Linked DNA regions of Homo sapiens. The protein of the gene in region 1 interacts with the protein of each later gene in a pairwise test. Each region holds a gene or a part of one and is shown on either strand. Other genes may lie near its edges.

Region 1 (8,677 bases):
AGGTCTATAACAAAAAAAATTCATGTTATCTCAGTAGACCCTTGTGCAGCAGAGATTTAAAGAATACCTTCCACATATATTTCCTTCATAACCACTTCTTAGGTTATATGAGAATCCTTTTAAAAGTCCTACCTGGTCTTCAGATTTTCAAGGTCTTCAGAGAAAATTGCATGATTTTTTGTCAGGAATGCTCCCAGTTGGTTATCCTCTATACCCACATCTTTAAGAAACAGAAGCATTTGCTTAATGTCTTTTTCAAAATCCAGTCTCAGAAGGAGGTTTGCTGCTTCTGGATGTTTTTCTATCTTGGACAAATCCACGCCTATAATAAATTATAAATACTGTTTGAAGATGACTTCTTAGTTCACCCATTAAACTCATATACATAAGCACAAGAAATTACTGATGGAGATCAACACCTATCCAAAGGAGCACTGAGATAGATCAATAGAAACTTCTAAATATTTTTAAACTAAGTTGGTTGCAGAAACAACATAGTATTTATTTTAAAAATCAAGTACAGAGGAAAATAGAGCATTTAGTGCTACATTTCCCCCCAAAACAAATTCACTAAGTCATATTGGTGTAGGGTCATCATCTTTGTCTAAGGTTTCTTGAATATTGTTTCAGAATGTTTGTCAGTCCCAGATGAACCCCACAGTAACTGGTAATTCTGCAGGGTAACAAACAATATGAATAAAATGTTACCTTCTTTGAAGATTTTATTTTTCCTTAGTTATAAGCATTATTTAAAAAATATGTTTATGATTCCCATCATAGGGGGAATAAAAATGACCCTGTGCCTTACTCATCGTTGTAATCTCTAGGTCTTTAGCACGGAGACACGTCCCTTGAAGAAACTCAAGAAATGTCTGAGTGAGAACAAGTGAACACATAGCCCTTCAAGTATACAACAAAGCAGAAAGTATACAACCTTAAACCTCCACATTTAAAACTTCTTAATGGCATCACACAGTCAAAAAAAAATCGTCATATTCATTATAACTCCAAATATTATTAGAACCAAATATAATTATAAATCCAAATTTCTTGATATTAAACAGGTATTAAGATGCCCATGAACAGTAAAATAGATTAAATACACAGACACAATGATATGGTTAGGCTGTGTCCCCACCCAAATCTCATCTTGAATCCCCATGTGTCGTGGGAGGGACCAGGTGGGAGGTAACTGAATCATGGGGAGAAGTCTTTGCTGTGCTGTTGTGTGATACTGAATAAGTCTCACGAGATCTGATGGTTTTAAAAAGGGGGGTTTCCAGGCACAAGCTCCCTTCTCTTGGCTGCTGCCACGTGAGACGTGCCTTTCACCTTCTGCCATAATTGTGAGGCCTCCCCAGCCATATGGAACTGTAAGTCCATTAAACCTCTTCCTTTTGTAAATTGCCCAGTCTCGGGTATGTCTTTATCAGCAGTGTGAAAACAGAATAATACGCACACTCAATGAAGATGAGAAACAGATCCAGAATAAACTAAAAAATGTTATTATACAAACAATAATGCATTTCAAATCAAATAGATAGACTATTTGTTAAAATATATGGGACCATTAGCTATACTTTTGAAAAAAATTATCTTTATATCTTATACGGAAATTAATTCTAGATAAAGAATCTAAACATACATTAACTCTACTAGAAAAACAAAAAAAATTACGTTTAACTACAGAATAGTATAAAACCTAGTGTAGAAAAAGGTCTGGAAAGCTATTCCACAATTTGGTTAATAGTGGTTACCTTTGAGAAGTGGAACTGGGGACGAAGAGAGGGTAAGAGGTCCTTCTCTTATAATATCTGCACTTTTGACAACCGGATGTAATTCTTTTGTAATTTAAAAATAATATTAGTAGAAAAATAAATCCAATTATTAGATGGACAAATAAATAAGATGAAAACCAGTTCCAAAAATCTGTGATAAATGGGGGAGCGGATGCTCTAAAAATAACATAAAGGGTTCAGACTTCACATTTAACTAAATATTACAGCTGACATGAACTGAAGTGCTTTGCTCAGCATGAGCTGTCACACCCTGACTGTGCTCGAACAGAAATCCTGAAAAGCTGCTTTTTAACAGCAGTAGGAGAGCAGAATCTCATCAGGAATGCACACTGCTCTCAATGCAAATAACTTGGGCTCACTTCATTTCATTAACTTGAAAAAATATTCCCTGAATGCCCACTATGGACCAGGCACTTTTTTAGGTATTGGGGTTATAAAAAAAGAATAATACACGATTCTAACCTCTAGGTGACCAGTCTAGTTGGGCTTTACCTCATCAGTTCAGTAATTACGAATATTACCATTTTATTCAGTTATGGTTACACGTATTTAGTACATCAATCAGGGTCTAGCAGGCTATACAACGTGCCCTGGAAAGTACAAATGACAAGGACTTTAATGAAGGGACTCTATACAGCGGTGTGAGCAGCCTTAAGAGAACAAACAAGAGCCTTCCCAACAATAAAGAGACAAGGAGGCAAAATGTTACCACGGCGCAGAGGGACTAGAGGCTATTAAGGAAGGGCTGCTCAAGAGTGCTGTTGTCATGGAGTGAGGCAGGTACAGGACCCAAAGAAGGGAAGGAACGGGAAAAATATCCCCACCTGACCCTTCTACCTTCTGTCCTGTAGGTGCCTCCCACTGGCTGAAGCTGCCAAGAAGCCAGCTGGCATAGGAGCCCTGGTGCATAGGGGTTGGCCTCCTGGGATACAGATCGGGCAGAAAACAGGTCTCAGAAGCAAACAGAGAAAAAACTAGGACTTGGGTACTCAAAAATACTGTCTGACAGAGCAAATAAGGCTCCCCTAAGTTACTATTATTTAAGTTACTTCTAAGACATGCTGTTGAAGTATCAGCATACAGGTAAAGGAATGGCTGAAACATATTCCAAACCTGTAAGTATACTGTAAATTATTTAAAGATAAGGACTAGGCCAGGCACGGTGGCTCATGCCTGTTATCCCAGCACTTTGGAAAGCCGAGGTGGGAGGAAAGCTTGAGCCCAAGAGTTTGAGACCAGCCTGGGCAACACAGTGAGACCTCCCTCTATTTAAAAAAAAAAAAAAAAAAATTAGCCCAGATGGCATGTGCCTATAGTCCCAGCTACTTGCGGGGCTGAGGTGGGAGGATCACTTGAGCCCAGGAGGTCAAGGCTGCAATGAGACAAGACTGTGTCACTGCACTCCAGCCTGGGTGACAGAGCAAGACCCTGTGTCAAAAAAAAGATAAGACAGGGACTGTGTCTTAGGTTTTATCTTGTATCATCCATAGCACCTGCCATAAGACAGGGAAAGCTGTTTCGAAAGGAAAAGTGACTGTCTCCTCACAGCAGACATCATCTTTTTCCTGCCTCTGAATGTACACTTTTTAAATTATATGTTTATGGGATACAACATGCTGTTTTGACATTTGTATACATAGTGGAACGATTAAATCAAGCTAATTAACATATTCATTACCTTACATATTCATGACTTTTTTTTGTGGTGAGAACACTTAAAATCTACTCTCTTAACAATTTTCAAGTATACATTATTATTAACTACCATCATCATGCTGGACAATAGATCTCCAAAACTTATGCCACCTGTCTAATTGAAACTTTGTACCCTTTGCCCAACAACTCCCCATTCCTCCCCACCCCACTCCCCAGCTCCCTCTGCTCCTATGAGTTCAACTTTTTTAGCTTTCATATATAAGTGAGATCACGTAGCATTAGTCATTCTGTGCTTATTTCACTTAGCATAGCATCCTCCAGGTTCATCCGTGTTGTTGCAAATAACAGGATCTCCTTTTTCAAGGCTGACTAGTACTCCAGTGTATAAATATACCACATTTTCTTTAGCCATTCATCCACTGATGGACACTTAGGCTGATTCACAGAACACTTTATTTGCCTCTCATGTGGGACTTATCACTTTGCTCTTCATCCTTGCATTCCAGTTATTCTTATATATTTAGATGTTTCTGAGGACTTGAAGCTTCTTGAGAACAAAGGCCATTCTAAACATATGGGTAACATATGGGTAACTGGGCACAGACAGATGAGTATACAATTATAATAGAGTGTCATTAATGCTAGGATCCAAGTAAGCAGGGAGTGAAATGAGAGCCTGAAGAGGGTCACTCTGTCTGCAGGGTCAAGAAGACACTTTAGAAGTTACTTGGACTTCAGTGATGTTCTCCAGTTGTTGGAGTTGGCTAAACAAAGGAGGGAAGTGGCAAGCCATGAAGCTGAACAGGTAAGCAGAAGCCAAATCAGGAAAAGCTTTGATGCCATGGGAAGGTTTTGAAGGATTTTAAATAGGTCACTGACTTAGATCTGCATTTCAGAAAGAGCACTAACACTGGAAAGATATCAGAGCCAATACTGCTGAGGAGAAGACTATCAAGATAGGAGGCTCCTGCAGCCACTCAGTGACAAATGAGGACCTAAACAAGGTAGTGACTGTAGGATGAGAGAAGTGGATGGATTTGAAAGAAATAGAGAGGGTAGAATCCATAGGATAAGCTATTAAATTAGATGTAAAGAGGAAGGGGACAAAAGCAATAAGAATCAAGGATAGGCCGAGTGCGGTGGCTCATGCCTATAATCTCAGTACTTTGGGAGGCCGAGGTGGACAGATCCCTTGAGGCCAAGAGTTCAAGATCAGCCTGGCCAACAGGGTGAAACCTCGTCTCTACTAAAAATACAAAAAATAGCCAGGCATGGTGGCACGTGCTTGTAATCTCAGCTACCAGGGAGGCTGAGGCAGGAGAATCACTTGAACCTGGGAGGCAGGTTGCAGTGAGCTGAGATGGTACCACTGTACTCCAGCCTGGGAGACAGAGTGAGACCCAGTCTGAAGAAAAAAAAAAAAAAAAAAATCAAGGATGACCCCCAAAGTTTCTAACAGAGCACAGATTTTTCTCTTTTTCCTCTCCTGTTAAAAATCACCTCCCAAAAATATGGGGAATGACAAACAAAAAATGAGATCCTTCTTTGAGGAAACGAGATTATATCCCCACATATCTGAAAACATCTGAAAACAGATGAAAGCATGGCAACAGCCTTATCGGAGAGGAGAAAGACGACACTGAAATGCCTGCAAATGAGAATCTGGCAAGTGGTAAGTGATCAGTACCACAAAAAACTCAAAAGTCTCCAAAATTGGAGTCCCTAGAAATCTGAGAGATTAGAGGTGAGGTACAGACTAAAAACTGGGGTATTGGGTATGGAGAGACCCGACCTCCCCCAAATCCAGTTCCTCTCAATGCACTAGGAGAAAGGAGATTCATTATCTGGGAAAATCAAGTATGAGAAGTACCAAACCCAGAGAAATGAGGAAAGCAAAAGTTTGTAATAAAATGCCAGACTAAAAATAAGATGACTAAATGAAAGTTTGGACGGAGATCCCCTGGCTCCCTTAAGCTATCCAGATCCAAGTGCAACCTAATGGTCAACAAGTGAAGGCAGCTATAGAGTAGGCCTAGAAACCATTCAAATCAGGAGGACAGTGGCTTCAGGAAGGAGGTCGGGGTAGTGTGACAAGCAGGGAACAATCCACTCTGGAGAAATGAAATACATCATCTGATAGGGTTACCTGGGAAAAACTGTCCTGAGAGGCTACTGGAAGGTATGGAAAAGTTTAACCCCAGAAACAAACAAACAAACAAAACAATTCATCAAATGAAGAACAAGGCAACTATTACTGCCGGAAAAATGAAAAGTTGTACAGGAAGGTAAATAATGATAGCATACTTCTTGTTAGGGCAGATAGCAATATTTATAGTCATAATTTAACTACTGACTAATGATTTATCTAAAATTGTAATTTATATTAGGAGAATTGAAAAGAATACAGGAAAAGTACATGTGTACATACAAGAGATCAAATGATGTCTAAAACTGATGAACCAAACAACAGCACTACAAACAACTATTTTAAAATGAGGAGGTTGAACACAAACAGAAAGAATGATACAAGTTAAGTAGATGCATCTGGGGAATAGGATGCAAGATCACCAAGGATGAGGCAGGGAATACGGTTTCTCACTAGAAGCCTTTATGCTATTAGACTTTTGCTTATGTTTGTATACTACTTAGTATAGATTAAATTGTTAATTTAAAAAAGTAAAAAAAGTAATGAAGAGTACATGCAAAAAGTACTTGTAGTTTAGTCAAACTTACCTAGAAGAACCAACTTCTGCAGAGTCTCAGAATGATCCACATAGTCTCGAAGTGTGAATGAAGCTGGTGGCAATGGAGGGTCTGCAATAATCTGAATAGCCTCTTCCTCTGAAATTGGCTGCATTGGAGACAATGGAGGCAATTCATCCAGTTCTTTGAAAGAGAGAAACAAATTAGTGCTCTAATATGCACACTTAAAACTATTTCTGCAAAGACCAGCTCTTCCCTTGTTTGCTTCTTTCAGTGGTTAAATCTTGGGATCATTTTAGAATTAAACATCCAAGTCCCTAATTTTTCACCTTTTAAGAGGTAAGGTTACAACTATTTAGACAGACTAACTACTGTTCCTCTGAGATTAGAAATTTGTTGGTAAATTTCAAAGCACACAATGCCTTTCCTTCACTTAATCAGTAGGTGAGAATGCTAAAAATCACCTAACTTTCAAGTGAATTTTGAAACAGAGATTGAGTTTACCATAGCCTGTTAACTTGGCTAAAAGTACACATATGCCAACAGTCTGAATTGCATGGATTAAAGTAATCATATCCCGAAAGTCTTTGTTTTGACCCAATGCCCTCCCTTCCAAGTTACCCTCAAATACATCTTTAAAAGGGCTTCTATGATTGTTTCTACAACCTGCAGTCCTCTCTACAGGAGATGTGACTCTCTAGTACAGCCCTGATTCTGAAGTTGTTTTTGTTTTTTTAAAATCAAACGCAGCATGGAAGACACTTAGAACTACACATTACCTTAAGCTAAGGAATCAGGTCTGTGATCTTTTGTTCTGTTTTGTGCTTCTCATCATTAACTATCCTTTCTCATCATTTATAGCCAGCATCTCCTCCCTGCCCTCTCCCCAGCTCTCTTTCCTTCATATTCTACTTAACCTTATATCATTTCATTACCAGCGAAATATTCCTAGAATAGGACCCATAGGAAGGAGAGGATTGACTAAAAAGCGACCATGAGGGAACTCTGTGGAGTTAATATAATTGTTTTATTTGTTGATTGCAGTAGTTCTTACACACTAAATGCATATGTCAAAATTCATAGAACTATATATCCCACAAGATGAATTTTACTTGATATAATTATACCCTAATAAAACTAATTACCACTAGAAGAATTTTGTTTTAAGAATCTAAACAATAAAATATTTAAAAAGCAAATGTTTTATATGTGTAGCTATAAAATAATCTTACACGTTAGCCCACAAACTTTTTTTCTTACCAGTAAAATAAAGGCATGATAGAAGTTCATCAATAGAACTGGTATTATTCTTTTTCTTTCTTGGCACAAAATATTACCTGAAATGGGCTAGCAGAAGGTAAACAGGTAGCTTGTTCAAATGGCCAAAGTAGGGAAAGGGAGACTTTTCTGAAAGTTCAGAATTACCTTCTAGAAACAGCTCAGAATCAAAGCTGGATATATTTTGTGTCTTCTGTGACTGTTCATTCATGGAAGGAAGCAGACTGCTTTGGGCAGAATTATTCTCCTGACTACTTGAGCTAGTAGACTGGGAACTATTCCATAAGGAGGAAGTCCTGTAAGTCTTAAATCCCCACTGGAGAAAGCAATTGTCAGAGGATATCTGAGGCTGAGCAGAAAAGCCATGTAACAGTGTTCTTGCTGGTCTAGTAAAACGTTTTGTGAGTTGTGCAGCATTAATGAGGCTCCTCAACTTAACTGAGTTAAACCATCTGGGTATCTGTTGGGCTGACAAAGCCATTTTTCTTAGTCTACAAAGGAAAGATATAACCGTCAAAAGAAGAGAAATTTAATTTACTTAAATGTTTAAAACGGTATTCAAACAACAAAAAGATAAACTGGAAATTATTTTTTTCTAATTGAAAGGTGTTTAAATATATATTTAGTCTAAAATAGTGAGATGTTTCTTATGTACAGGAAAAGCCAACAACAAGGCAATCTCAGTTACAAACCAACAGACAGGAACTTCTGAGTGGAAAAATAAAGATATACTTTACAATTTAAAAACAAAATGCAATGACACTGGTGTAAGAAAAATGCTTAAAACAAAAATCTGCAAATGTTCAAGTGACAGCAGACCTCACTAATCTGTTAATTTAATCATTTAAAGAGAATAAGCTGATGCAAATAAGTGTTCTTGAAATTTGGTGTGAAGGGTGTTTCCGCAGCACATTGCTGATCAAAGTAACACTGAATTATTCAAATGCATTTTATGTATATAAATTTGTCCCAAAATGAAAAAACAGAAATCTACTGTGTCCTAAACAAATCATCAAAATATTATCATTGATATACAGAACAGTGAAAGCAGTTTCTTGCTTCATTCTCAGGGCTGAACACTGTTGATTACTTCACAGATAAAGCTGTTCTTCCAAAGGGAATTGAACAAAACCAGTTTTGTCAAGTTTTGTTTCACTGTAGGAAAGGAGAAAAAAGCCTTCAAAAAGAAAAGGTCAAAACTAGTAACAAAACCAAGTGACAGAAATAAATAAGCAACCAGC
Region 2 (7,300 bases), on another chromosome or scaffold:
TTCCAAGATTTGAGTGATTAATCAGTATGGAGAAACAATTCCCAGAAGTGTTTCTTTGTGCATTCTTTAGGACTTGACCATACACAAAAAGTTAAATTGTATACAGAGTGCATAGCGGCAATATGTTGAAGGACATAAGTAGTGCTTGGTACATTAAATGATAAAATGATCTCATTTGATTATAACAGGGCCTGTGGTGTATATGTAGATAAAATGGAAATAGATAAGGTACTGTTCTCTCTGAATAGTCTGGGGTAATAAATTAATGTATTGTTTCTTGTTATTATGTTTAAACCATTTCATTGTAATGCTGTAATAATTTCACTTGACTAATTGGGTGCAGAGGAAAATACAACTTTTTGAAGTTGGCTAAGAAGTTCTTTATTTTTGGTTTAAATTAGCATAATTATCTCTTCTGCTTGGAGAAGAAAAGGAAAACCTATATTAAGAAAATGTTTAAATACAATTATTGTGTGTCAGTTTGGTGGCTAATATTCTTGATCTTAGGAATCATGACTACAATCTAGTATTTTTATGTTTGATTAATGTTGAGATTAAGAGCTGCTGGAAATGAATGCGTAGGTTGCTACTTACCTTCTCCCACTTTTTTGTGCCTCTGTAGGTACATGGACTATATCGCACAACAGGTGCTAGTTTTGAGAAGGCCCAACAGGAGTTTGCAACAGGTGTGATGTCCAACAAAACTGTCCAGACCGCAGCTGCAAATGCAGCTTCAACTGCAGCATCTAGTGCAGCTCAGAATGCTTTCAAGGGTAACCAGATTTAAGAATCTTCAAACAATACACTGTTACCTTTTGACTGTACCTTTTTCTCCAGTTACTGTATTCTACAAATATTTTTATGTTCAAAACACACAGTACAGACAGCATGGATATTTCCTGTTCACTTGTGCATGGGCTAAAACCAGGAAAACTTCCTTGTCTTATTACTTTACCTAATAGTTTCTTAATATTTCAGTGCCCCTTGCAGAAAAAATATTACATGCTAAATAAATATTCTCCATATTTTTGGGGGATGACATTCAGTGAATTATTTCAGTGGTGACCCACTGAAAATTAATAATGGTACTTATGATTAAAAACGCATTTAATACTAACTGCAGTAGTTCTTTCAAGAATCTTTAGAGATAAGGATTGCACATTGGAAAAGTAAACCATGTTTCATTCCTTTTTCCCTATTTATATTGAAAGAAATAGGCCAGCAGAGACTTAGGGATTTTAAATTGGCTTGCTTTTTAGCTGTTTCAGTCACCAGTGAAGAGCCTATGTGCATTTTGTAGTAGATAATGTAAAATTTGTCATCTTTTTCTTTTCTTTTTTTTAGAATAGCTGATATTTTGATAACAATCTCTAATTTGCATGGGCACCACATTTCTTATATTAAAAGAATTAGTGTTTTGGCTTCTGTACTGCTTATGGTTGTAGGATTCAGGGGTTAATGGAATCACAGAAATGATATTCTGCAAGAATTTCTTTTAAATAAAAAGTTTGGGGGTGCAATATAAGAAGTTTATATAATATGCAGTACATTATCCAAAAGAGAAGGTAGTTAATGCAGTAGAAAGTAGTGGTAATAATTCCTTTTTAAAAAAATTTCGGTAGTCATATAGTAACATTTTGCTATATGAAAACTTTGGTATATTCTGTGGTTACAACTAAGATTGTGTCTGGCAGCTCTTTTTTGGGGATGTGTGTGTGTGATTTTTAACAGAGGTATTAAAGGCTAGCCTAACTGTTGTCTAAAAAGATTGTACAGTATTTAAGGGATTTTCCTTTTAGCTTTTCATCTCCAGTGGCATTAAACATAAAAAGACCCTGGCATTTTTTCACATACTTGAATCCCTAAATGCACCTGTCTTTCACTTTTTGAGACAGACTGAATATATCTAAAATTTCCAGCAATAAAAAAAAAAGCATTTAACTTGCACCAAGCAAGAAAATATAAATACAGTTAACTGCATTAAGATAATCACGTTAAAATTGTTACTATGCAGCACAGAACTTCATTCTTATAGTATTCTTGGGTTCAACCTTTGAATCAATTTTACCACTGATTAAATAAATGACTCAAAGACATCTGTAAGTCATGCTGCTGTGTTTTGAAAGTCTTTAACTAAATTAAGATTGCAGAATGATAGTGATTATTCAATTAGATTTTAAGTAAGGATTGTGATATTAGAGGCTGGAAATCCTTATTTTTTAAAAAATCAGATAGGCATAAATAGTTAAATCACTTTCATTCTCCCCAAACCTGTAGTTACAGAAAAAGTTTTATGCTAGAGGTGGGATGCCAAGTTTTCACTATCCATGAAGCAGCGCTGCATGTCACTAGGTAACACAGATCCATCCAGATGGTGTTTACATTTGATTTATTTGGGATCTTATTGACATCAGGTATACTTGGAAGACATTTCTTTTATTCTTCAGCGTATGAATTTAAAGCTATTTTTTGTAAATATTTCTAATCAGCGATAATTTCTACCTATGTTCTCAACCAACTTAGCCAGTTTGTTTTTCAGAGCCTGTAGTCTTATTGGAAATCTATTTTATCAGTGTGCTTTATTGAGTGTGGATTTTGCATACATTCAAAACATTAACCACAAAATACAGCAAGTGCACCTATATTCACCATTAACTTATATCCCAAGTCCATTTTTTCCTGTACACTACAAACAAAAGATATATTAGAGACTTTTGAAAAATGCTGAAATACTTTGCTTCAGAATTGGAATGTTTATATTATGTAGAAATCTTCAAAGGTAGCATTATTAAATAGCAAAGAATAATTAGAACCCACATATCTTTTTTTGTGTGGATGGGGAAAATGTTTTAAAATCCAGTTATTTAATATGAGTTTGAGAGAGAAAATTGTTTTTTAAAAATATATGTGCATTGAAATGATGGCAATGCTTATAGTATGATCAAGTATGAAAGGAACTTTAAATTCTTATATTTACTTTTCTCTCAGTAAATTGTTAAATTTTCACTCAGCAAAAGATTGGCATTTGTTAAGTGTTCTATATTTAGTACTAAAATCACAGTCATGAAATCATAGTCATAAAATGGTCTTCACACAGCAGTCATCCGTGTCATTTATCATTTTGTAATATTAAATTATGGCAATTTTATTTCAAACTAAAGTTTGAACACCGGAAAGTCATTACTCAGTGATTTGTAATTTGGGACTTGGATTATTTATCTAGAGATGTTTGTATATTTTGTCAGTAACTAATACTGCGCTGCCATCATGGTGACTGTCATGGTTCTACAGAAATGCCCTCCATGTGTCCCTCTAATGTTGCATGTTTCAGTGGGTTGGAAGTTTTGTATATTTATTGTATTAACACAGAGTGTCATAAAATAAAATGCTGTTTACTGGATGTTTGTTTGTATAATTTTGAACACTATAATAGCAATTCAGAGACAGACATTGTTAAAGGTTTGATGTATATAGAAATTCCATGTTTGATTTTTTAAAATATGTGTATAAGTCTGTCATGTGCTAAACAAAATAATATGAAAGACCTAGTTAAAAATTCTAACCAATGTAAAATGACCATTTTTCTGTTGCATTAGACCTTTACAGGTAATGGAACATGAGCTTCACCCATATTAAATATTTTGGCCCCTTTAAGGTCAAAATACAGATCATCTAGAAGTTAGATTCAAAATGGAAAACCTATTCATGGCTCAGATTTTTCATTGTGGGTTAAAAATGGGTGTCTCTGTACTAGTATTGTATTTATTCAATTGAACTTGTATTCTGATTTCTATCCTTGCTACCTATTGCTGTTTTATGTACTGATGAAAGTACCTATTTGTGTATATTGGATTTTTCACTTGGTTAGCTAAAGAAGATGTAAAAATATCTAAAATAATGTTCATGGTGAATCTTATTTTGAGAAATACATGTTAAAAAAGGAACAGTATTCTTTATTTTCTGGGTGTTATATTTAAAAAAGCAAGTTTGGATTTTTACACCTAATTTACTAGGAAAATATTTTATTCTGTAATTCATGTTAAGATTATGTATGGTTTGCATTTTAAGGGGATTTATGTTAGGTTAATTAGTTGTTTCTGTAAATCATTTGTAATAGCATAGTGCTTTTTACTCATTGCTGTATCTTTTTCTGAAAACACTGTTGTTAACATCTAATTCAGTATCCTTATTGGTACAAATCTGTGTTTGGCATGACTGTTTATATACAGAATTTGTTACATTTTGAGCATTTTTTCCCCTGCTTATGTATACCTTAGAGTTACCATGGCTGTCATATACCATTTCACTATATCTCCTTTCAGTTTTTCCTTAAGGAAAATGTTTAGAGGAATTTGTTCATTTCATGTGATTAAGCCCTTTAGAGATGAAATAAGATTGGTTAATTTTAAAAAAATTGAGGATGGTTAAAAAATAGAAAACACCTTACTTTGATACATTTTAAAGTACAATAGTATACATTTATTTAGAGTAGACTAATGTGTTTAAAACATGAGTTGTTTTAAATACTTTTTTATTGAGCTAAAAAGTTTTATCTCACATATTAAGTATTACAGAAAGTGAAGTATTTTGGCTAGAATTTTAGGGCATATTTTATAAAGCAGCATGCCTGTAATATTGGTGGGTATTTTTAAACTTTAGGACTTTATCACAGTATGTAGAGAGCTAGAAATAAATCTAGAAACTTTCTAAGCCAGGTATTGCCACTAACCTGTCTTATATAAGCAGATACCTCTTATTTGAAGATTGTAGGAAAATAGAGAAAGACTGTTCTCCAGTTTTCTCACCCCCGCTGTGGGTTTTATATTTACAATTTAACTTTGGGGTTTGGGTAAGACAAACATTTAATGTATAGGATTTTGGCCAGGTGTGGTGGCTCACGCCTGTAATCCCAGCACTTTGGGAGGCCAAGGTGGGCGGATCACGAGGTCAGGAGATCGAAACCATCCTGGCTAACATGGTGAAACCCCATCTCTACTAAAAATACAAAAAAAAAATTAGCTGAGCATGGTGGCGGGCGCCTGTAGTCCCAGCTACTTGGGAGGCTGAGGCAGGAGAATGACGTGAACCTGGGAGGCGGAGCTTGCAGTGAGCCGAGATCTCTCCACTGCACTCCAGCCTGGGCGACAGAGCGAGACTCCATCTCAAGAAAAAAAAAAAAGAATTTTCATTAGTGCTGGCCGTGTTTCAAATGGCAAGGGAACATGGGAACTATCATGTGGCAATGTAGTGAGTGTTAAACTTTGTGTTTGTCCAAATCCTGATTTATTTTTCAGTTCATATCTTTCTGGGCTTGACATGGCTGATGGTGTAGCTGAAACCCTCCTAACACTAAAAGCCATTTAATCTTTTCTGTAATAGGAGCAGAAAATAGTTAATCATCCACCTAGTAATATAAGATTACTGTGAATATTATCTTCTATACATTAAAACAGTTCTAGTTTGTAGAATAATACCATACAAGTTTTATTTTTAAATTCTAGTTATTTTCAGTGCTTACTTAAATGTAATTCTAGAATTCCTCCACAACTTTTAATATTTTGTATGCCAGTGATTCTCAAGATAAATCATGATTGTAGTAGTTGTTACTGTTGGCAGTTTGTAGTAGTATTCAGGTATTTTGGGGATGGGGGAAAACACCAAAAATCAGTGTCTTTTATCTGGTGATCACTGTGGTATCTACAGTATTCTAGTCTCCTGCACAAAAACTGAACCCACTGGGCCTATGCATCCCTCACACTTTTTTTCTAGTATAAAAGCAATACATAATGTGTTGTAGAACAATTAAAAATTCAGAAAGTGATACATGAGAAAATAAAAATAAATCCTTAATTCTGTCATCTTGGGGTACCTCTGCTAATATTTTATTGTCTTCCATTCTTTTTCTATGCATATGTGTTTTGTTTAGTTAAGAGATATAAGCAATATGGATTTTTAAAAACCTTATTTTCCCCTCACTTAGCTTTATGTCATAATGGCGCAATAGTTTAGTTTTTTAAATTAACTTTTTTAATTTATAAAATTAATGTATATTTCAGTATAAATTATAGAAAATATAAGCAAAAGAAATAACCAAAATTCTCATAATTTTACATCCATGAATAACTTCTATTAAAATCTGGTTTATATCTTTCTATTTTTCTAGGAAGACAACTTCCTAATATTAAAAATGAGATGACCCCGTACATCCTTGTACATCCTTTAGGGATGTCTACCTACTCCTCAAAAGCCCCACTTCTTTGGGTCCTTAAAGTCCACATTGGTACTGGATGTCATCTGGCCATAGTGGACTCATTCCTGGCTTATCAGTTTTTTATTCTGAATGTAGATATGTCTAGAACTCTACTGTTCCAGAATTGGAACATAAGAGGTAGCCATTTTCTGCCATGAGGAAGGAATCACCAAGAAAGCTGGTCTGCAATGAAAATGAAGAATGAAACAGACATAACAGGAGATGTAAAATGAATGACATAGAAAAGATCTTAGTGGCTTTCCTTTTCCTTTATGGAGCCCTACTTCTCACCCTTATCCCATTATCCTCATAATCTTACCGCTTTTTCTCCCTCAACTATCTTGAATTGGTTTCTTATTACTTTTAACTGGAGGATCTTAACACAACAGTTTATCTTATTTCAGTTATGATATAAATATGTATTGAAGATTTTAATATCTCTGAATATATTTCTGTAACATTTAGTATAGCTATATAGCTAACATCATATGTATGTATCATAAAGTCTTGTTATTCCTTTAGGTTCTGATTTTCAGGGTTTTAAAGTTATAAATAATTTATCAAGGAATATATTGTTGCTAAATTTGGGGACTCGGGCTTTTGTTTTTTCTTTAGGACAGATTGCTGAGTTAAAGGGTATTATGCATAGTTTTTAAAGCACCTTTCATGTGCTTTGCCAAGTTGCTCTCCAGAAAAATTTTATCCATATGTAACTCCATCAGCAATGTACGGAAAGGCCTCTTTCTTCACATCCTTGGCCAGCATTGGATGTTCCTTTTCTAAAAAGTCTTTTATCCCAATAGATTTTGACAAATCAGGTTTCTTTTCTGAGCATTCTGGTTTCACATGGCTTATGTGCTCACCCAATGCTACCGGTTTGTTTGTTTGTTTTTGTTTTTGCTAAATAGGAGTAACTGAGTACCCTGCATCCACTGAGAAATCTTCTGCTTCCTGAAAGCTCTAAGGTAAAGATAATTAGCTGAATGCTCTGTTATAACAGGATGGAAAAAGAAATGGTGGCCTCAGGTAGCCAATCCACTGAGTCTCTCC

Evidence for each region.
Region 2: the proteins of MTERF3 (region 1) and SCAMP1 interact in binary tests that used the Homo sapiens proteins (3 or more experiments, as listed by UniProt).

What each region holds. Positions count from the first base shown.
Region 1 is NC_000008.11:96,250,774-96,259,450, forward strand, and holds part of MTERF3 (transcription termination factor 3, mitochondrial isoform 1 precursor), read right to left. Parts: intron 7,928-8,677; 5' UTR 7,918-7,927; coding exon 7,584-7,917; exon of another isoform or gene 7,449-7,583; coding exon of another isoform or gene 7,419-7,448; intron 6,342-7,418; coding exon 6,189-6,341; intron 323-6,188; coding exon 133-322; intron 1-132.
Region 2 is NC_000005.10:78,474,882-78,482,181, forward strand, and holds the end of SCAMP1 (secretory carrier-associated membrane protein 1), read left to right. Parts: intron 1-622; coding exon 623-787; 3' UTR 788-5,858; downstream 5,859-7,300. UniProt on the Homo sapiens protein: Functions in post-Golgi recycling pathways. Acts as a recycling carrier to the cell surface.